Regions from separate parts of the Homo sapiens genome. Here region 1 is linked to region 2. Evidence: fine-mapped expression QTL. A gene starts in region 2. The other region holds a variant in brackets. All regions are shown on one strand. Distances are from middle to middle. Region 1 has its middle 7.8 kb from the start of SSTR1. Region 2 holds the start of SEC23A (SEC23 homolog A, COPII component).

What was found. PIP is the estimated chance that this variant, and not a neighbour inherited with it, causes the effect.
Region 1: its variant is fine-mapped to the expression of SEC23A in monocytes after LPS (Quach 2016, PIP 0.95).

What each region holds. Positions count from the first base shown.
Region 1 is chr14:38,194,409-38,205,795 of GRCh38, reverse strand. No RefSeq gene overlaps it. Among named protein-coding and RNA genes, the nearest start is that of SSTR1, 7.8 kb to the left of the region's middle. RefSeq lists a silencer at 2,198-2,492 and enhancers at 5,968-6,468, 6,469-6,969, 9,144-10,132. The variant G/C (reference allele first, on the strand shown) is at 6,305.
Region 2 is chr14:39,097,662-39,109,048 of GRCh38, reverse strand. It overlaps SEC23A (SEC23 homolog A, COPII component), which reads left to right and starts at 5,814. Exons shown (of 20, transcript NM_006364.4): 1 at 5,814-6,017. It overlaps SEC23A-AS1 (SEC23A antisense RNA 1), which reads right to left and starts at 5,909. Exons shown (of 2, transcript NR_146545.1): 1 at 5,678-5,909; 2 at 5,237-5,504. It also overlaps the pseudogene PPIAP4. RefSeq lists silencers at 5,599-5,828, 5,989-6,108, 6,129-6,208.

The DNA.
Region 1 (11,387 bases), 900 kb after region 2:
TTGAGACAGGGTTTTGCTCTATCACCCAGGCTGGAGTGTAGTGGCACAATCACAGCTCACTGTAGCCTTGATGTCTCAGGCTCAAGTGATCCTCCCACCTTAGCCTCTGGAGTAGCTGGGGACTACAGGTGTGCCCCACGATGCCTGGCTAATTTTTAAGGTTTTTGTAGAGATGGGGTCTTCCTATCTTGCACAGACTGGTGTGGAATTCCTAGCTCAAGCAATTTTCCTGTCTCAGCCTCACAAAGTGCTGGTATTACCCGTGTGAGCCACCGTGCTCAGCCCAGTCATGTATTTCTAATTATTGTATTTGTGAACTAATCTATGAACAACAAAAACAAACAAACAAACAAAAAGGGTGGCATTTCTGGGCCACCAGGAAGGTGGATTGGGGTTGCAGCTATTTTCAAATTATATTAAAAGCAGGATCCCAGTTAGAGCGCTATCTTCCCCTCAGATCTCAATTTAATGTAAATATTTCCAAAGAAAAAGGAAAACTGATATGGGCATGAGATCACTTTAATTTGCAAAAAACGCAGCCAGTGAATAGTCAGGACTCAACAATCTTCTTGTCTTGTTAAAAACTTTTTAGGTTCACATGTCTAAAACCTTGAAAAGATTAGGAAGAGCTTGTTTTCTCCCTACAAGTTACCTGTCCTCCAGCCCTCTTTGGTTACCATCTTTCCTATGCCTCTGTGATATGAACATTTATAGATAGAAAAGAAGGAGATGTTTTCCAGAAAGGGGAAAATGAAATGTTCCAATTTAGGAAGTTGCAGATTCTTGAGCAGACTGATTTTCTTCCCTCACTGTAACTTTCTCCTACAAGCTATACTCTCCTGTGCTATCATGTACCAGGTGCACACTTTGATTATTATATTTATCACACTGTACTGTGGCTTTTTGTGTACTTGTCTGTACCCTCTTATAAATTTGTAAGCTTGTGGAGACCAGGGGCTTGCATTTTATTTATTTTTCTATCCCCAGCATCTAGTGCAGTACCTACAAAATTGCCCCAAATCACCTTGTTTTATTTTGTCAAGGCATCCCATGGATAGTACTTTCCTCTTTTCTAGATTATAAAATGTAGATGCAAAGAAATAAACTGTGAGCTCCTTATAAGTAGAGCTTTACTAGCTGAGGAATATCATCATGTGTATTAATTCCTTATACACTTAAATTATTCTAAATAATTTCAATTTGCATGTCCTATATCAACAATTGTCATACTGATGACTCATTCATTGATCATTCTTGGTCTTAAATTTCTCAGCAGAGAAAGGGCTCTGGAAAATGGGTAGTACATGCATTAGTAGCTAATGATGGTTATTTAATAGTGTCATGCAGTGTGAAAGTCATCATACATGGAAGATCATTTCCTTTTAATAGCAGTTTTGAGCCTCAGTTCGTTTGGTGGAATAGTAATTATCAGCACCTCAACTTCTGCTTATGTCAAAATCATTACTAATGTGGTTTTTCCAATCAGAGCCTGTGTTGATCCTTAAATGAGCATCTCTAATTCATACCAATGATAAAGGGCTGGCTGGAGCCAGGGATTAAAGGGTACACTTCCTGGAACATTGTCTGCAGCAGCAGAATCAGTGTCAGGTTTACAAACACCTGTCTGGACAGATGGGACCAAATTGAGTATAAGGGGCTAACACCACTCAGCAATATGGCCTACAGCAAAGGTTGTGTCACTTAAGGACCATCTGCCACTAAGCAGTTAACATGATGTCAGTCTAACGAGAAAGTTACCAGAGCACAAATGTGGCTATAGGGCTAAGAAACAATCCTGGACTTCATTTCTCAGGAATACCCAATCACAGCAGCCTTGGTAGCCTGTGGTTTAGTTCATCACCAACCTCAGCAAACTCACCCTGGCCCACTGATTTTCCTATTGCCTCTTCTGTGAACAGCATGACAGAGTCTTTTTTTGTGCTTTTAGCAAAGACCCATATGGTGTAACAACTCCTATTCTTCCCTATGTTTTCTCTACTACAAAATAATATTTCTAAAAACAAGAATTCAGCACATACAGGAAAGTATTCATTACAAATAATGGAAACATAAAAGCAGAACAGGAGCACATTCATGTTATCTGTATTATTTTGAATAGTCCTTATCAGTAATACATTTTTCTGTAATAAAGTCTGTTAGTTAAGGATTTTAAGATGGATGCATTAGTTTAAAACTATTGTCTCGAAATCTTTTTTCTTTTCTTTTTTTTTTTTTTTTTTTGAGAACGAATCTTACTCTGTTGCCCAGGTTGGAGTGCAGTGGCATGATCTTGGCTCATTGCAACCCCCACCTCCTGGATTCAAGTGATTATCTTGCCTCTGCCTCCTGAGTAGCTGGGATTACAGGCGCCCATCATGCCCAGCTAATTTTTATATTTTTAGTAGAGATGGGGTTTCAACATGTTGGCCAGGATGGTCTTGATCTCCTGACCTCATGATCTGCCTGCCTCAGCCTCCCAAAGTGCTGGGATTACAGGCGTGAGCCACTGCGCCAGATAATTGTCTCAAAATCTTTAAAAAAATTTTTTTGGCATTTCTCTTTTTAGCAAAAATCACAAAGAAATGCTTTCAAAACCACAAACCATATTTTTGTTTATTTTGATACTTCAATTTATGTTTGATTTTGAGCAGAGGATTTAAATACTTAGAGCAAATCATTCATTCCTTGAGAAAGGGCTGTTCCTTTGGAGCGGGCTATATCTGTCAATCAGCTCCACCAGCCCAGCAAAGAGCTAGGGTGTGAAAGGAAAGCCTGTTTTGTAGATGAAAACAATGTAAGCATCTAAACGCCCACCACCATGATACTGCCACTTTGTTCTCATTTTAAATATGTTGAGGCAGGAGTCTAGGTTCATGTTTCAACAGCCAAAACACTTTTATTTAGACGATGAAGCAACTTAAATGATTGATCTTTTCTCCCTTTCTGTAATTAAGTTGGAACTGGTCATTACTGGTTCTAGGTTGACAGTCTCTCCATCTCCTTGTCTTCTCCTGCTGGAGGCAAAATGGGGGGCTGTGTCTGTGAGCTGTCAGACTGGAACTCAGAACTACCAGGAGTGGTCCGGAAAGAGGTCCTGGATCCTCACCTCACTGTCCCCTCTTGAGAGTGGACTGCCTCTCCTCACCAGCACCTGGCCCTGCCCCTGTCTCCTTTTGCCCACAGCATGGAATGCTACTTTACTTAGTCCTTGAGGAAGTAGCCCGTGCTACTACTTTCCTACAGCCTGACATCTCCTTTCCTGCCAGAAGAAGGAAGTAAGAAGATAGCATAGCCTAGGTGGGGACACCTGGCCTACACTCCTTCTTTGTTGACTGTTTGGTTGAGCCAAGATTTCGCTGCTTATGCCATTAGCCAATGCAGTGGTTTCTGATATTATATCCTAATTTTAAAAAATTATTTGTATGTGTTTTATTTTATGGAAGTAAAATTCAGACTGCAGTAGAAAAGATTTATTTCCAGTTATTTGCCCCATTTCTTAGTTAAAAGGAAGTGGAAATTAATATCAGAATTCCACTATGTATGAGTAATGTGTGTTTTTAATTGTAACTTAGTAATTTAGCAAATACTTAGGGAATGCCCACTGGGTGGCAGGCACTGTTCTAGGCACAATAGATATAATGACAAATTAGATTAATTTTCTGTGGAATTCTAGTAGGGCAGAAAGACAGTAAACAAGTACAGGTACTGTAATTTCATTTCGTGATAAGTTCTAAGAAGATAAGTGGGGGTGAGAGGATACAGAGTGCTGGAGGGGTGGGTGCACTTGGTATAGATTAGATGGAAAGGGAAGGAAAGAAGATGTTTGAGCAGTTATGAATAAGGTGAAAGTAAAAGGGCACATGTCTGATGAAGGTTGTTCCAGTCAAAGGCAACAGCGCACATAAACCATGGGGATTCTGCAGATGTAGGTGTTGGCATGCTAAAGCTACACATTCCCAATTTTAACTTACTTACCTACTTTCTACAGTCATAATTTAGAGAACATCTCTAGGTGTAAATAATTATTTATTTTGATCAGCACCTCATATAGAGAATACATGAAGATCCTGTTCTTTCCCGCTTCTAGCCACATCCTTCCCGGCAAGGGAAGGAGTTCCTGCAGCCAACAAGTGCCCAGTCTGAGCCCGCAAGCCACATCTAGCCCATACGCTAGATCACAATCTTCTAGACTCCATGACTCCCTGCCCAGAGGCTCCAAACCCACTTCCAGGGAAGTGTGAGCCAAATACATGGCCAAGAAGAGGCTCAGAGGTGACTAGGAGAGGATGTGGCAGATGAGTAATGAGCTTGGCCATAGGGGTTCAGGTATCTGTCCTAATGTACATGAGCCTATTCACTGGGCAGGACAAAGCCAGGAATGGAAGTTGAAGTAGGACAGGCTACTGGTGGGGGCAAGTTCCAGGGTAGAGCTTGTGAAGAGGGCTAGGAGTCTAAATTGGACTCTGTCTTTCCAGGTCATAATGAAGATAGATGATAGGCTATATTTTATTTAACGGACTCTGAGCTTGATTGATAACTTTCAAGGTAAGCAAACATGCACACCAAACAAAACAGTTGGGCCTTTGGAAGAACTTGAAGCACAGATGTATAACCCAAGCCACCAAGAAGATGGAGAGAGGATGCCACACCACTCACTTTATTCTTTTCTGACTACCCCGTTGGCCTTTTTCATTCCAAAATAAAATTTTGCTCTTCCCCCAGTCAAAAATAAAAATGTTATATAAATAATGATGTAAATACACACACACACATTAAATGAACATATATATGCATAGGCTTGAAAGGACAGTTACTAAGATATTAACAGTGGTTATCATCAGGTAGTTGGGTTGTGAATGCTTTCTTCTCCCTTTTGCAGAGATTTTCTAATTCTTCAGTCATAAGCACGCATTGCTTTTTAAGTAAGATAAAAGCAATAAAAGCTTTTTATACCTTAAAAATGAAAAGACTCCAGGCCGTAAGTGTCTGTTCTATTTAATATAACATTTGCTGATTTATTTTCTCCTCAATTATTTTTACTTTTAGAAAAACACTAATAAATTTATTCTTGAAATTAACATGTTGTGATGTAAGTTAAATGGCAAACAAAACATACCCGTCAGAAGGTGGTAGAAGGAACTGGAACAGGAGCTACAACAGTCTATTATTTTCTAGGCAGCCCCTATCATCCCATAGCTAAGTGATTCATTGAGTATGCTTGAGTCTGATATGCCTATCTTTTGGAATTGCTTTATCATTGCTATATAATGTGATTTATTTGTGACATAAATCACAAGATAATGTTTGTGAAAGCAAAGTGTAGTCTAATACCAAACATCAGGGCTTACATCTCATATTTTCCATGACTTTAACCTTGTGCTGGTTGTTTGATCCCTCTGTGCTTCATTTTCCTCATTTGTAAAAGGAAGTAACAGTGCATCTATCTTGTAAAATTGTTAAAAGGATTAAATACATTAAAAGTGTTTAAAACAGTGTCTGGCATATAGTAAGCACTATGTAAATATTTAGCTATTATAAAATAATTTCTGAGGTATGGGTTACAATGTAACACTGTTTTTGAATTAGCCCCAGACTTGAAAAATCCAGTTTTGTCCCTTGCTTAAGAGCTTAATACAGTAGGTCTGACATTCACTTCTGCAGTCTAAAAAATACTGACAGTTTCTATGTGTATGATACTTACCCTTTCTTTTTCCTCCTGCCTATCCAGTTGAGTCCCATAATTCCAACACTGTGAACTATGTTCCATTCACCAGTTTTTGGTACATGACACACCCTCAGCTAAAATAACTCTAAGTTATTAATCACACCTATCTACGTCATACTGAAGTCAATCTAGTCTACCACATGGTAAGGATTCATACTAATCACTGAACTCACTGACTCAAATAACCCAAATGTTTGAATGTTACATATGCACAGTCTAAGTTGAACTTAACTTTTATTTTGTCTCAATTTCCAGTGAGGCCCCAGGCTCCCAACCTGATGACTGCAATTGGGAAATGTATCCACTTTCTAAAGAGAGGTGCTAGTCCACCCCCTTAGCCCATTGCCTACCTCCATATATGAGAGTAGAAAGGAAGTTGATAGTGATTAATTCCTTAGAGACAGTTCTCAGAGTGCTGTGCATTTTTCTTCCCACAAAAGATGGAAAGTGGGTGCTTACCCCATCTGTAAACTGTGGAGGCTTCTATAAGACCACTTAAAGAGCTTGGTAGTATCCCTGAACATTTGACAAGACACAGAGACTGATGTCTGATTCTTACCTGGAAAACTTAAAGGTGAA[G/C]AAGCGGCCCAGTGGGAATTGCTTCAGGTGGTAGAGTGAAGAGAAAAGGCTATGGAGGGGGGTGCAAAACGCTGGTTCCCACTGAAAGTGGAGCAGAGGCGGTGTTTCTCAGGCACTGGCATGGACAGTATGGCAGGCAGGCAGGTGGGAGCCCCGTGATGGGCCTGCTCTCCACCCCAGGATGAGAGGACGCTCAGCGGGAAGTTCGTGAAGCACAACAATCAACAATCAGTAGCTGAGTGGGGAATGCAGCCAGCTGGCCAAGGATATTGGGCACGCCATCCAAGGGCACAATGGGTGGTCTCCAGCAACAGAGTGGGCGATGCTGAAGAACCCACTGAAGAATTTCAAAGGAGAAAGAAGCACTCACAGAGGGCACAATGCATGATTATAACTGCACCGCTCAAGGAAGAAGTTGGCTGTCCCCAAATGATTTTCCCTCTCCCCTGCAGGAACCAAAGACAGAGAAAGGGGTGAGGGAGGTAGAGTAAAAAAATACTGCAAAGACATGATAAAGAATTAACCGCTTCCCTCTTCCCTACTACAGGATCCAAGCATAGGTCATGCTGGAGCTGGTATAGGGACAAAGAGATTTAAGTTCAATGAGAAATGAAAGTTTCAATTTAAAAAGGATTTTTAAAATAATGTCTGAAAATAAGACTGTTAATGTCTGAAAGTGAACAAAAAAAGCTGTGGGATCTGTGTGTACTAAGTACTTTCCATTTACGGTTTCAGCATATTTAACCCTTCCAACTACACTATGAGGAAGCTTCTATTTACTACTCTCATTTTGCAGATGAAGAAACCAAGGCACAGAGAGGTTAAATAACTGGCTCAAAGTCACACAGTCAGAGCTCGAATTTGACTCTAACAATCTACCCTAAGGCCTGTGTTCTTAAACATCATGCCACACTGCTGTGGTCTTATCTCTTACTAAACTCGATTCAATTAAAGTGTGGTTTTGAGACCACGAAATTACATAAATAGCAAATTTAAGTCATTTTTATGTTTTATGCATTCCTCAATGAATCCAATAATTGCCTCAGTCTTCTCCTCTATTCATGTTGCCTAATTATTTAAAAGTAACTAGACCTCATCAGAAATTTGGAGTGACATGTTTTGAAAGAATTTAACCTTAAAAAATGTTATTATAAAAGTATTAAGATTGATGAGCCATTGGTATTTTGGTACCAAAGAAAATGCATTTTCTGTTAACAACTGACCACCATTTCCCAGTTCTAAACATGTGACGATCAGTACTGCAGGCAGCTTTGTGCTGTCTTCTGTATGAGTATTTCTCTGTAGTTTTTTCCTACACCATTCCTGTGGTCTTGTCATGCCTCATCTTTGCCCCACCTCAGGAAAATGGATATCCAAGTGGTGGGTCAGCAGAGCCGCTAGGTAGAGGATAAATGAGCAATAGCTGCTTTGAAGTGATTTGTATTGATGCCACAAAATCCCAGCCAAAATGTATTCCCAGGAAAGGAAGAGGGATTGCTGCTGGAACAAAATCAATTAAAATAAAATTTCCCCTTCCCTAGAGCAAGTGTGTGCCCATTTCAACTGGTTTAGGGACTTTGCACTTGGACTTTTGTTGATTTGACTAACAGTTTTAACAGATGAGAATACACAGATGGCAGATTCACTCATGTGGGGGATCATTCTTTCCTAATTGAAACATTATGCCTCTCTTCACTAAACAATTAAGTAAGAAATTACCATGTTTAGTCCATTAAAATGCCTTAACTTAATAGAGGATAATGACACACAAGAAAAACTTGTAAAACTCAATATTCACACTTGCACATAAGACTAGAGTAAACCAAAACTATTCTACTTTAGTTTTAGAATTTTTTTGATGGCAAGCTTTTAAATGAAATTGCATTTTTTCCCCTCTGAACTTTGAGATTAATAGGTCTTATTTTTCACACATATGAAATTTTTAGCATTTTTTTTTTTTTTTTGAAAATTCTATTCAGTTTTACTTGTGAAAACACATGCTCTGAAAATCCACTAGGGGGAGATTTTAACATTGAGAACTTTGATAGGGAAAGTTTCAGATTTTATACAGTTGTATGTCAGTTGACAGCTGGAAAAACTTAAATTTTGAACTAAGCCTTGATTATAAGGTTTACATCTTGATAAAGCTACCCAAGATATTCCAGCTATATTAAAACCTGGACTGAGTGGCTAGGGAGAACTGATGAAATATTACTCAGGCTTGTCAGAGAATGCATGTGGAGGCTGTGTGTTTGGGGAAGGAGGGGGATTTGGGTGTGAACAGGATGAGACCTTGTGTCTCTAGGGGTTGAACCAGATGAAAGAGTAATCTCTGGCCATTGCCACTGTGTATACTGTTAGTAATTTCTGGTTTCCACTGATGCATAAAAGCTTGATTTGGTTCCTTGGGGAGGCTGAGTCTTAGAATACCACTGAAATTCTCTGTAACATGATGAAAGAAATGAAAAATATATATAAGGGATATTTTTTAGATGACTTGCCTTATTTGAGGAGGCATGGCACTTTTGCAGAAATCTTCAGATAACCACCACCACTGTGGTCCAAGCAATAACAACTTGATGTCATCGAAATTCCAATAAAATTTAAAATAGATAATCTCTATAAAGCATCCTGTGATAGGATTTGACATGTGATGTCTTTTCCAAAGCTTGACTAACATGTTAACAAGGGAAGGTTTTTTTCTACTGTCAGCAAAACACCTGTAGTTTTGTAGAGTCTTTTCCCCTAAAACTGAGAAATAGGATAAAAGAGTCATTGGTGCTGATTCTAGCGCAACCACTCCCCTTTCAGCAACTTACTATTTTGAGAGGTGATTTTCTACATACAAATGATGTTGTCCTTTCTGCCAATAAGTGAATTTTTTCATCCTCTTGGGTCATATACTTATATCATTTTCCCCATATTGTATAGCATCCTTTAACATATTATGTAAGGATGTTTTTTTAATGCGCGTCCGTGTGAAGAGACCACCAAACAGGCTTTGTGTGAGCAATAAAGCTGTTAATCACCTGGGTGCAGGCAGGCTGAGTCCGAAAAGAGAGTCAGCGAAGGGAGATAAGGGTGGGGCCATTTTATAGGATTTGGGTAGGTAAAGGAAAATTATAGTCAATGGGGGTTTGTTCTCTGGCGGGCAGGAGTGGCGGTCGCAAGGTGCTCAGTGGGGGTGCTTTTTGAGCCAGGATGAGCCAGGAAAAGGACTTTCACAAGGTAATGTCATCACTTAAGGCAAGGACCAGCCATTTACACTTCTTTTGTGGTGGAATGTCATCAGTTAAGGTGGGGCAGGGCATATTCACTTCTTTTGTGATTCTTCAATTACTTCAGGCCATCTGGACGTATACGTGCAAGTCACAGGGGATGCGATGGCTTGGCTTGGGCTCAGAGGCCTGACATTCCTGCCTTCTTATATTAATAAGAAAAATAAAACAAAATAGCATTGAAGTGTTGGGGCGGCAAAAATTTTTGGGGGGGTGGTATGGAGAGAGAATGGGCGATGTTTCTCAGGGCTGCTTCAAGCGGGATTAGGGGCGGCGTGGGAACCTAGAGTGGGAGAGATTAAGGTGAAGGGAGGTATTGTGGTAAGGGGTGATATTGTGGGGATGTTATAAGAAACATTTGTCATATAGAATGATTGGTGATGGCCTGGATACGGTTTTGGATGAATTGGGAAACTAAATGGAATAACAGAAGGAGAAAAACAGGTATAAAAGGTCTAAGAATTGGGACGACTCAGGATATCTGATTAGAGAGTGCCTAAGGAGATTCGGCATAGTCCTGCCAGCAAAGATTATTTATTTATTTCAAGAGTTAAGAGTGGCAGTTTGGGGATAACACCAGGAGATATCAGCTGTGATGGCTTGGAAAAACAGTGTAAACCGGCAGTGTAAACAAGAGCAGGGCATGTATGAGTAGTTGAGAACGGTGAATAGGAGTATGACTAGACAGAAGATAGCAGGGATGACAAGTTTTTTGGGGGCACAGTCTAAGTTGGTCTGGTGTCTGGAATGAGACTGGGGCCTAATAAAAAGGAGTGTCTATACAGGAGCTTAAATGGGCTGTACCCTGTAGCATTCCGAGGACAGGCCTGGATTCTGAGAAGGGAAAGTGGTAAAAGTATTGTCCAGTCCTTTTTAAGTTGGTGGCTGAGCTTGGTGAGGTGTGTTTTTAAAAGACCTTTAGTCCATTCTACTTTTCTTGAAGACGGAGGACCGTAAGGGATATAAAGGTTTCACTGAATACCAAGAGCCTGAAAAACTGCTTGGCTCATTTGACTAATAAAGGCTCGTCTGTTATCAGACTGTATTGAGGTGGGAAGGCTAAACTGAGGAATTATGTCTGACAGAAGGGAAGAAATGACTGCGGTGGCCTTCTCAGACCCTGTAGGAAAGGCCTCTACCTATCCAGTGAAAGTATCTACCTAGACTAAGAGGTATTTTAGTTATCTGACTCAGGGCATGTTGAGTAAAGCTAATTTGCCAGTCCTGGGTGGGGCAAATCCTCAAGCTTGATGTGTAGGGAAGGGAGGGGGCCTGAATAATCCCTGAGGAGTAGAATAGCAGATGGAACACTGAGAAGTTATTTCCTTGAGGATAGAATTCCACGATGGAAAGGAAATGAGAGGTTCTAAGAGGCGGGCTAGTGGCTTGTACTATAGCATAACCTGCCTTTGCTGGTTTGTGGCGATTAGGCCATCAATAAATCCAGCGTGATCAGGGTGAGGAACAGGAAAGAAGGAAATTTGGGGAAATGGTGTGAATGTCAGGTGGATCAGAGAGATACAGTCATGGGGGTCAGGTGTGGTATCAGGAATAATGTGGGAGGCCGGATTGAAGTCCAGGCCAGGAACAACGGTAATTGTGGGAGACTCAATAAAGAGTGAGTATAGCTGAAGGAGCCGGGAAGCAGAAAGTATATGCGTCAGGTATGAGGAAGAAGATAGATTTTGGAAGTTATGAGAACTGTAGAGAGTGAGTTGAGCATACTTTGTGATTTTGAGGGCCTCTAAAAGTATTAAAGCAGCGGCAGCTGCTGCACGCAGACATGAGGGCTAGGCTAAAACAGT
Region 2 (11,387 bases):
TATATATAAAATATAAAATAAACAATTGCTATTTGAACAAGAGTTAGAAAATCTAGTCTTGTCAGCATTTAAAGAGGAAAAGACAGGCATGAAATGAAAACTCAGTGTTGTAGGTTTTATTTGTTATTTAGTTTTTATTTCATAATTATAAACTTAACTCTGCAATCCAGCTAGGCATGGACGGAAACAAGGAAAACATGGAACCCAAAGGAAACTGCAGTGAGAGCACAAAGATTATAGGATACTGCGAAAAAATGGGGTGAAGGCGTGCTCTATTGAGCTACAGACAGAATGGTCTGGTGGTTAAGATAAAAACACAAGTCAAACTTATTAGAGTTATCCACAGTCAGCAATGGTGGTCTTGGTCTTGCCACTGGACCCAAAGCACTCCATGGCCTCCACAATATTCATGCCTTCTTTCAACTTGCCAAAGACCACATGGCCTGCCATCCAACCACTCAGTCTTGGCAGTGCAGATGAAAAACTGGGAACTGTTTGTGATGGGTCCAGCATTTGCCATGGACAAGATGCCAGGACCTGTATGCTTTAGGATGAAGTTCTCATTATTAAATTTCTCCCCGTAGATGGACTTGCCACCAGTGCCATTATGGCATGTGAAGTCACCACCCTGACACATAAACCCTGGAATAATTCTGTGAAAGAAGGGAACACTTATAATCCAATCCTTTCTCTCCAGTGGTCAGAGCATGAGTTTTCTGCTGTCTTTGGAAACTTTTCTGCAAACTGCTTGAAGGAGACACGGCCCAAGGGCTCGCCGTCAACCACGATGTTGAAGAACACGGTGGGGTTCACCATGGTTGATAGTACAGGGCTCCGGCAGTGGTGTCTGCAAAGCCAGTGTTGTAGGTTTTAAATGAGCATCAGCACCCTGGCCTAGGGTGTTGTTAAGTGTGCCACTTCTCTTGTCCTCACATTCATTTGTCATGTATGGGGATTAGACTAAATGATCACAAAGGCTTGAGTTTACTATTCTGTAATTTCCATGTGACTTATTAATTAGCCTTATTATATTTAATACAATTGTAGTCATTATGAGTGCAGAATAGAGGATCAGACAGATGTTATTCCGTGAATATAACTTTAACACACTACTGGTGCTGAAAATTCAAAATTATAAGAATCTGAATATTGCTTTTTCAAGTGACTACTCCAAAAATAGTTGGCCAGTGCCTTAACCTGTCACTATCTGAACAAATGGAAGAGAATCCATGTTAGAAAAAACTACAAGTGCTTCATCAATACTAGAAAACAGAGTAAACCTAAAAAGGAAAAGTAGAGGTGAAAGCTCCATCTGGTGGTTAACATCTACAGTTCCAAGAAATTGACATTATACTTCACTGACTGTAGTACTGGAACCTCAGTTTAGAAATACCTGTGGGTTCTGAAGTAGGAAGATTACTGGCTGTTACGTATTAACTAATATTTAATGGTGGAAGGCAAAGTCTTTCATAGGGTGTTTAGAATACTTGACTCAAGATAATCCCTGGGAAAAAAGTTGCAAGGTCAAATATCTTTAAGAAATGTTCTTGGCTATACATGTCTTTATTCGACCACATAATCTTTCCCTCTCTTTTTAGTCTCTGGCATTTTAAGAAATGCCAGTTTGAGGAAATAGTGAACTTAGGAGTATTTGCTTTTAAAAGACTTTCTTTTGAAGGGAGCTTATATGAGATTTTATATTTTTTACAATCTCTTAGATGTTCTGACCTTCCTTTCACAGGAGTTAAAAAAAATTCCATTCCCTTTCTACTCTTCCTCAGGTTGAAACCTCGTAACCAGCATACTGGAAAAAATTATAGGTGTGGTAGTTCATACCTATAATCCCAACACTTTGAAAGGCCAAGGTGGGAGGATCCCTTGAGTCCAGGAGTTCAATTCCAACCTAGGCAGCATAGCAAGACCCCATCCCTATTTAAAAAAGCAAAAAAAGCCCACGCCTGCAATCCCAGCACTTTGGGAGGCCGAGGAGGGCGGATCACGAGGTCAGGAGATGGAGACCATCCTGGCTAACTCGGTGAAACCCCGCCTGTACTAAAAATACAAAAAAATTAGCCAAGCGTGGTGGCGGGCGCCTGTAGTCCCAGCTACTCGGGAGGCTGAGGCAGGAGAATGGCGTGAACCCGGGAGGCGGAGCTTGCAGCGAGCCGAGATCGTGCCACTGCACTCCAGCCTGGGGGACAGAGCAAGACTCCGTCTAAAAAAAAAAAAAGAAAAAAAGGGCCAGGTGCGGTGGCTCACGCTTGTAATCCCAGCACTTTGGGAGGCTGAGGTGGTCGGATCACTTGAGGCCAGGAATTCAAGACTAGCCTGGCCAACACGGTGACATCCCTGGAATTATAGGCGTGAGCCACTGCGCCAGCCTGACTTTCATCTTTTTTAAAGCATAGCTTGGAATAATTGATCAGTAAGGATGAAATAATTCTATGGATGATGAAGTAGCAGAACGTTTCAACATACAAAAAAAAAAATTAGTAAATCCCACTATGTGTCCTAGATGTATAAGGGTCCAATGGATCTATATGGGAATTGTAAATAGAATGAGTTTTATTCTATTTTTTAATTTTATGTATTTTATTTTTGAGACAGAATCTCACTCTATCGCCCAGGCAGTGGCACAGTCATGTAATGGCACCATCACGGCTCACTGCTGCCTTGACCTCCCTGGGTTGAGGTTACTCTCCCACCTCAGCCTCCTGAGTAGCTGGGATTAAAGTCACACACTACCACGCTCTGCTAATTTTTCTATATTTTTGGTACAGATGGGGTTTCACCATATTTTCCAGGGTGGTCTTGAACTCCTGGGCTCAAGGGATCCTCCCCCTTCAGCTTCCCAAACTGCTAGGATTACAGGTGTGAGTCACCACATCTATTTTTTTAGAAAATAAATTTTCTCTTTGTTGTTTGGAAGACTTCTACGAAGGAACAAAAAATCATGAAATATCAATCCTTAAGAGTAGAGCCCAAAAACAAAAAAACAACCCTGAAAGGCTAAAGTTGGGTCCAGTAGATCCTGATCCTGATAGTATATCCAAGGATTAAAGCCATTCATCATTTTTTTTTTTTTTGAAACGGAGTCTCGCTCGGTTGCCCAGGCTGGAGTGCAGTGGCGTGATCTCGGCTCACTGCAACCTTTGCCTCCTGGATTCAAGTGATTCTCCTGCCTCAGCCTCCTGAGTAGCTGGGATTACAGGCGCCTGCCACTGCGCCTGGCTAATTTTTGTATTTTTAGTAGAAATGGGGTGTCAACATCTTGGCCAGGCTGGTCTTGAACTCCTAACCTTGTGATCCACCTGCCTCAGCCTCCCAAAGTGCTGGGATTACAGGTGTGAACCGCTGCGCCTGGACTTAAAGTCATTCATCTTAAAGCACATAAAGACAGATGCAACTGAGTTTGTTATGCATCCTAACATCTATTTCATTGTAATAGGGAATTAAAACCTTTGATCAACTGAAAACAAAGGAATGATGAATTTTTTTTTGTTTTTTTTTTGAGATGGAATCTCGGTCTGTCGCCCAGGCTGGAGTGCAGTGGGGCGATCTCTGCTCACTGCAGGCTCCACCTCCTGGGTTCACGCATTTCTCCTGCCTCAGCCTCCCGAGTAGCTGGCTCTACAGGCGCCCGCAACTATGTCTGGCTAATTTTTTGTATTTTTAGTAGAGACAGGGTTTCACCATGTTAGCCAGGATGGTCTTGATCTCCTGACCTCGTGATCTGCCCACCTCGGCCTCCCAAAGTGCTGGGATTACCGGCGTGAGCCACTGTGCCTGGCCAGGAATGATGAGTTTTTGAAAAGACTTCATTGAGCTGGATGGTAAAGATGCCTTTCTGGGAACCATGAAATGAATGAATCTACCAAAGGTACTATGCTTTGATTTATTCCTCGCTGGATTCCAGGATTTCTGTGGATCTTCTCATCAATGTTGCTATGGTCTGAATATTTGTGTCCTACCAAACTCATAGGTTGAAATCTTAACTGCTAAGGTGATGGTATAGGGAGGTAGGGCCTTTGGGAGGTGAACAGGTCATGAGGGCTGGCCTCTCATGAATGGGATTAGTACCCTTGTAAAAGAGACCCCAGAGAGCTAGCCAGCCCCTTCTGCCATGTGAGAACAAAGAAGGCACCATCTATGAATCAGAAAGCAGGTCCTCACCGGACACCAAATCTGCTGGCATCTTGATCCTGGACTTCTCAGCCTCCAGGACAGTCAGAAATAAATTTCTGTTGTTTATGAGCTACCCAGTTGAGGGCATTTGTGTTAGCAGCCTAAATGGACTAAGATCTTTTTATCCTACTCATTCTTAGATCTTGTCGCTTTTGGTGGGTGTACTTATTCCACCTTTATAACAACACCTCTGCTGTGTGCTGTTAAGAATCTTCATTAAGGTAGCACCTTGAACCTACTTTATTTGGAAGCCTACACTAATTTTTGGCTTTCGATTCCCATTGCCCTCTTCAGGATTGTATTACAATTTGACAAGCAAACATCCTCTTCCACCTTCCAAAACAACTTTAGTACACACATTATAGAAAGGGAAATATGTTTGGTGCTTTTTTTTTTGAGACAGTCTCACTCTGTCACCCAGGCTGGAGTGCAATGGCGTGGTCTCGGCTCACTGCAACCTCCGCCTCCCGGGTTCAAGCAATTCTTCTGCCTCATCCTCCCGAGTAGCTGGGACTACAGGAGCGTGCCACCACACCCGGCTAATTTTTGTATTTTTAGTAGAGACGGTGTTTCACTATGTTGGCCAGGCTGGTCTCGAACTCCTTACCTTGTGATCCGCCTGCCTCCGCCTCCCAAAGTGTTGGGATTACAGGCGTGAGCCACCGCGCCCAGCCTGGTGCTGCTGTCTTATTTCTCATGAATATGAGCTTTCAAGGACAGGGACTTGATCTTTTTTTCCATTCCATAAAATGTTGATATGGCTAAACTTTGCAGGCTTTTAGGCGTTGTCATATATGCAATTAATTCCATGGGCACTTAATTTCATTCCCCTCACTGAAGGAAGGGGTTGTCTGAGACCACCAAGCTCTAATGTCTTACCAATCTGTTGCTTTCTCATTTTGTTCAACTTTTTTCTTGGAAAGAAAAACATTGAACATATCAAGATGAATCAGCCAAATATTGTACTGTGTGTGTGTTTTGGGGGTGGGGGGAGACAGAGTTGAAGTGGCAGAGGCAATGTAGGAGGAAAAGACAGGCTGACTAAAATACATAAATAGTACGTGAATTCTTTCGGGCCAGGGATCTGGGCCTACTTTGCCTGCATCATATTACCAGCATCTCAATTGTGTCTGGCACATAGTAAGTTTCAGTAAACATTTGTTGCACTAAGTGAAAGAATGAACTTTTCACTTTTTTCAGAGATGTGATTTGTGATTCTCGGAATCAACCAGGGTCCTAAGATGTCCTGGAGGCCGTCTCCATTTCTCTCGGTGAGCTAAGGTGTCCGAGTGGCACCAGTTCTCCACTCTTTCTGCGACCTGCAGGGAGTGGGATACGCTGTGGCTTTAGGGAGCTGGGAAAGGCGCTCTCTCCCGGTCCCGCTCTGCCCGGTCCCACGCCCCTCGGCCGTCCGGCTGCCTGGGTCTTCCGGGTTCTTCCGCCCCTCTGGCTCGGTCCCCGCTACCTCTCCTCCCTCCTCCCCTCTCGGTACCTTCGCCCGCCGCGCGCCTTTCTCAAATCCTCCGGTTATTAAGCAAGCTCAGGGGTCCGGTGGCCTGCCCTGGTAACTCTGCGCCCGCCCCTTCCTGCCCCCTTCCTGCCCTCACGCCCCGTCCCCTCCTCTTGACGTGGCAGAGGCGGCGCCAGCCATGTTGGCCGGGCGGAGGTCTTCGCTGAGGCCCGGGGCGGGGTGGCGCCACCCCTGATTGCGGTGCCACGGACTGCTCCTGCTGGGCGGAGAGGACAGATTTTGCAAAGCGGAGGCTGCGACGGGTCCTGCAGGGGGACAGTGAGGAAAGGGCCGCCTCGTCTCCGCTCCTGGGGGACCGCAGGTGCGCAGCGGGGAGCGGGGGCGGGCTGGCGGCGGCGGGCTGGGGGCTGGGATCCTGGGGTGGTCCCGGCTCTGCCCTCTCGGTGCCCCGGGGCCAGCGAGGTGTGCTGGAGGCTGAGGCCCGGTCCGGCGCGGGGAGCGTTGAGTGCTGAGCTTGCCACCCTCTCACCCACTTCGCTCTGCCGGGGCCGGGGGCCCGGCCTCCTCCAGCTCCCCTGGATTAGGTGGAAAGATGTGGAAAACGGTGGTTCGAGCATCTCGCCCAGCACCCACCCCCACCTCCTGGGCCACCCACCTCCACCCAAGTCCATCATCGCCTCTGGGCCCTTGGACTTACTGTTTCATTCCTTGCCAGATATGGAGTGTCCTAGACTTTGAACCCAATTGACTACGTCACCGTAATTCAGCCTTGGAAGTTAAAGGGGTTAAAGGGGAAAAGAGCTTGGTAAAGATAATGCCTTGGGTTTTGATTACAAAGAGTTCAGTTTTCCAGCAGGACCAGCCCTATCTCACTGGGCTTTCTTTCTACGGTAGGTAGTGTTTCCCGATTTGGTGGTAAAGGTACTGCCTGAGGAAGGTCATAGTAAATCTACATCAATCACTGAAGTGGGGATGTGGAATTCTCGTTTTCACTTGAACTCCCTCAACCTCTACCGTCCAAAGCCATGGATAACTAGCCAAATTAACTTGGTTTAAAAAGGTTTTAGATTTAAATATAAATGCATGTTGAGTTTTCCTTCTCTTTCTCCTCTGGTAGTGAATGAACATCATTTCAGAAGTCCAGCTATTTTTTTTTTTTCTGAGACGGAGTCTTGCTTTGTCGCCCAGGCTGGAGTGCAGTGGCGCAATCTCGGCTCACTGCAACCTCCGCCTCCCTGGTTCAAGCGATTCTCCTGCTTCAGCCTCCCGAGTAGCTGGGATTACAGGGGCGAGCTACTATGCCCGGCTAATTTTTGTATCTTTAGTAGAGACGGGGTTTCACCATGTTGGCCAGGCTGGTCTCGAACTCCTGACCTCAGGTGATCCGCCCGCCTCGGCCTCCCAAAGTGCTGGGATCACAGGCATGAGCCACTGCGCCCGGCCAGAGTCCAGCTATTTTTAATTGACTTACAGAATTTTAGAGTTAGATGGGACCTTGTGATTTTCTAGTCCAAGTCTCTTATTTTGCTGATGAGAAAAACAGGATTCAGAGAGGTTAATTGTCCAAGATCATAAGAAGACAATTCATTGAGGATTTTGGAAGTGAAAAGTAGGAGACAAATTTAATTGGCAACTAACAAATACATGTAATTGGAAGGAACTCAAATTTACTTGGCAAGTACATTTTCAATTAGATATGAATAAAAGGGCTTAAAATTAGAATATTGAAAAACTATCATAGGGAAAGTCTTTTTTGTTTTTTTTTTTTTTGAGACGGAGTCTCGCTCTGTCACCCAGGCTGGAGTGCAGTGGAACGATTTCGGCTCACTGCAACCTCCGCCTCCCAGGTACAAGCTAAGCTATTCTCCTGTCTCAGCCGCCTGAGTAGCTGGGACTACAGGCGACCGCCACCATGCCTGGCTAATTTTTGTATTTTCAGTAGAGACGGGGTTTAACCATATTGGCCAGGCTGGTCTCGATCTCCTGACCTCATGATCCACCCTCCTCGGCCTCCAAAAGTGCTGGGATTACAGGTGTGAGCCACCGCGCCCGGCCAGGGAAGTCTTACTTTTAAAAGACTTGGGCACATATTTGATATACTAGGTTAAAGTGACATAGTGGTTTGCTTCTTAGCTTTTAGCTCTATTATGATAAATTATTTAACCAAAGTATATTGTACTGAAATTGGACATTTCTTTGTAATAGTCTTTTGTGTTTTGTATCACTTTTTAAAAAAAATAAAGACTAGTGGCTGGGTGCGGCAGTTTACGCCTGTAATCCCAGCACTTTGGGAGGCCGAGGCAGGCCAATCACCTGAGGTCAGGAGTTCGAGACCAGCCTGGCCAACGTGGTGAAACCCCATCTCTACTAAAAATACAAAAATTAGCTGGGTGTAGTAGCTCACGCCTGTAATCCCAGCTACTGGGGAGGCTGAGGCGGGAGAATCGCCTGAACCCGGGAGGTGGAGGTTGCAGTGAGCCGAGATTGCACCACTGCACTCCAACCTGGGTGATAGAGTGAGACTCCATCTCAAAAAAAAAAGAGACTAATATGCTAAGTCTGCATTCTAATATAGTGTGTGGAATAATATTTCTTTGGTTTAATACTTTTATGCAAACATGTTAGTATTAGGGGAGAGAGTGCTTATCAAATAATATCATGTTATGAAAAGCTAGTTTGTGGCTGGGCATGGTGGCTCACACCTGTAATCCCAGCACTTTGGGAGGCTGAGGTGGGTGGATCACCTGAGGTTGGGAGTTCGAGACCAGCCTGACCAACATGGAGAAACCCCATCTCTACTAAAAATACAAAAATTAGCCAGGTGTGGTGGCTTATGCCCGTAATCCCAGCTACTCAGGAGGCTGAGGCGGGAGAATTGCTTGAATCCGGGAGGAGGAGTTTGCGGTGAGCCGAGATCACGCCATTGCACTCCAGCCTGGGCAACGAGCGAAACTCCGTCTCAAAAAAAAAAAAAAAGTTAAGTTGGCTTGTAAAAGGACTTTATTTCAGATATGCCATTGTCGGACATGGGACTAAGCCTGGCAAATTTTGTAATTGAATTCGTGATTTTAAGATTGCATGACTCCTACTATGGAAAGGTGAGGGAAGTCAGGGAAGTGTTGTGCATAGCCATGTAATTGGACCAATTGAGAAACAGGTGGGATTTTCTTCAAACTACTGCTGGAATGTGGGAATGTAAGAAGTATAATAGATGTGATTTAGCAAGCAAATTGATCTTAGAGCAGGGAGATTGAGAGGAAAAAATGTGAAGAAGAGAAGAGAGTTGTGCCCAGATATCACTCAGGTGATATTTAGTATGTCTTAATAAGAAGTAAGAATGTAGAGATACAATCCAGCCTTTTAACCAGTTGTAGAAAGTTAAACCTGGCTATTGTCTGTGTGTGAATGTCTTCCTGCTAAGACTCCTGGAACCTTTCTTAGTGAGGTTTCCTAATGGTCCTAAGGCAGTGGTTTTCAGAACCCCTAACTTAAACATTATTGAGTATCCAAAGAGAAAAAAAAAAGGCTAAATAGAAGACAGGTGGGTTTTCATATCTGTTTCTGCAGTTTATTGTGATATATTGTTTTGGTTGAATTGTATGAAGGATTAATTAATAAATTAAAAGGTTAATTGCAGTGTGGAATCTGAAAGCTTAGGAGTGACCTTTTTGTACTTTGTTACCTTAAAACTCATTGGCCTATTCTACACTTTGAATGGATCATCTACCCATGTGTGATATTTTCATATCACAAATTGACGGTTTGGAAGATATTGCTTCACTGAGTAATGTATATCTTCTAAATGTTAATACATTTTGTTATATACTATCAAACAAATTACATTAATACCAACACTGATCTCATCAGAAAAATCTTTACATATTAGGAACTTGTCAAGCTTATGGTAGCAGGCACAAGTTTTAAAACAATTTAATGGCGGGGAGCGGTGCCTCAAGCATGTAATCCCAGCACTTTGGGAGGCCGAGGCCGGCGGATCACGAGGTCAGACAATTGAGATCATCCTGGCCAACATGGTGAAACCCTGTCTCTACTAAAAATACAAAAAATTAGCTGGGTATGGTGGCACGCGCATGTAGTCCCAGCTACTTGGGAGGCTGAGGCAGGGGAATCGCTTGAACCCGGGAGGCAGAGGTTGCAGTGAGCTGAGATTGCCCCACTGCACTCCAGCCTGGTGACAGAGTGAGACTCCGTGTCAAAAAAAAAAAAAAAAAAAAAAACCCAAAAACAATTTAATGTTTGCTTGAAAGCTCAAATTTTTATCATTGGCAAAAAATACTATAAGTTGTTTTCTATGAAGTGATAGGTTTACTTCATACATTTTTGAGAAAATATCTGTGTAATACCTAAGTACTAGTTATGTACTATCCTTGGGAGAATTGAGAAAACAGTCATTGAAAACATTTTTTGTTTTGTGTTTCAGCTATTTTAATGCCTTTTGCAGATGTGTTTTAGATGCATTTTATTTTTTTTTTTTGTTATGGCACATTAGAATTTTTATTTTTTCTTAATAACACTGGATTTCTTATGACTTATTTTTTGTCAAATGTAGTCATCCCTGTTCTGATTTCATTTTATTTTATTAAATTTTTTTTTTTTTTGAGAAGGAGTCTCACTCTGTCGCCCAGGCTAGAGTGCAGTGGCATGATCTCGGCTCACTGCAACCTCCACCTCCCGGGTTCAAGTGATTCTCCTGCCTTAGCCTCCTGAGTAGCTGGGATTACAGGCACTCACCACCAGCTCAGCTAATTTTTGTATTTTTGGTAGAGATGGGGTTTCACCATGTTGGCCAGGCTGGTCTTGAACTCCTACCTCAAGCGATCCGCTGGCCTCAGCCTCCCAAAGTGCTAGGATTACAGGCGTGAGCCACTGTGCCTGGCCTTAAAATTTTTTTTATTTTTAATTTTTGTGGGTACATAGTAGGCGTGTACATGCTTCTTAAATTATAGGAGCAATTAAGTAGTAAACACAATTTTATTTGCCTTATGTTCTGTATAATAAATGTGGAAGAGGTTTGCATAGTCTTAGAATTTATATTCACATCAGTAACATGGAAGCTGTTGCTAAAAACTGGATTTCTAATCTCCCCCTCACCCCCACGTCCTGGTTGTTTTTTCTTTATTGCCACCTATGTTACGGTGGAGTTTGACATCTTCTAACTCTCCTCTGAATATCCCACACCTTTGTTTTATCATTATCTTTCAACACTTTTCCTTGAAAGCTCATACCACCCTTCTCAAAGCTGCCTTCTATATTTACCTTCAAAATAGTTTTGTTTTTTTTTTTGAGATGGAGTCTTGTTCTGTCGCCCAGGCTGGAGTGCAGTGGTGCAATCTCAGCTCACCACAACCTCTGCCCCCCCAGTTCAAGCGATTCTCCTGCCTCAGCCTCCTGAGTAGCTGGGATTACAGGTGCATGCCACCCTGCCCAGCTAATTTTTTTGTGTGTTTTTAGTAGAGACGGGGTTTTGCCATGTTGACCAGGCTGGTCTTGAACTCCTGATCTCAGGTGATCCACCTGCCTCAGCCTCCCAAAGTGCTGGGATTACAGGCTTGAGCCACTGCACCCGGCCCAAAATAGTCTTTTCTAAACAAGTTTAGTCTTGGGATTTCTCTTTACCCTTTATGCACCTTTGAAAAACCACAATCTTTTTTGATTAGCGTAAGATTTTCTAGCTGTCTCCAAGATTCTGGCACAATTGGAGGAAATACAG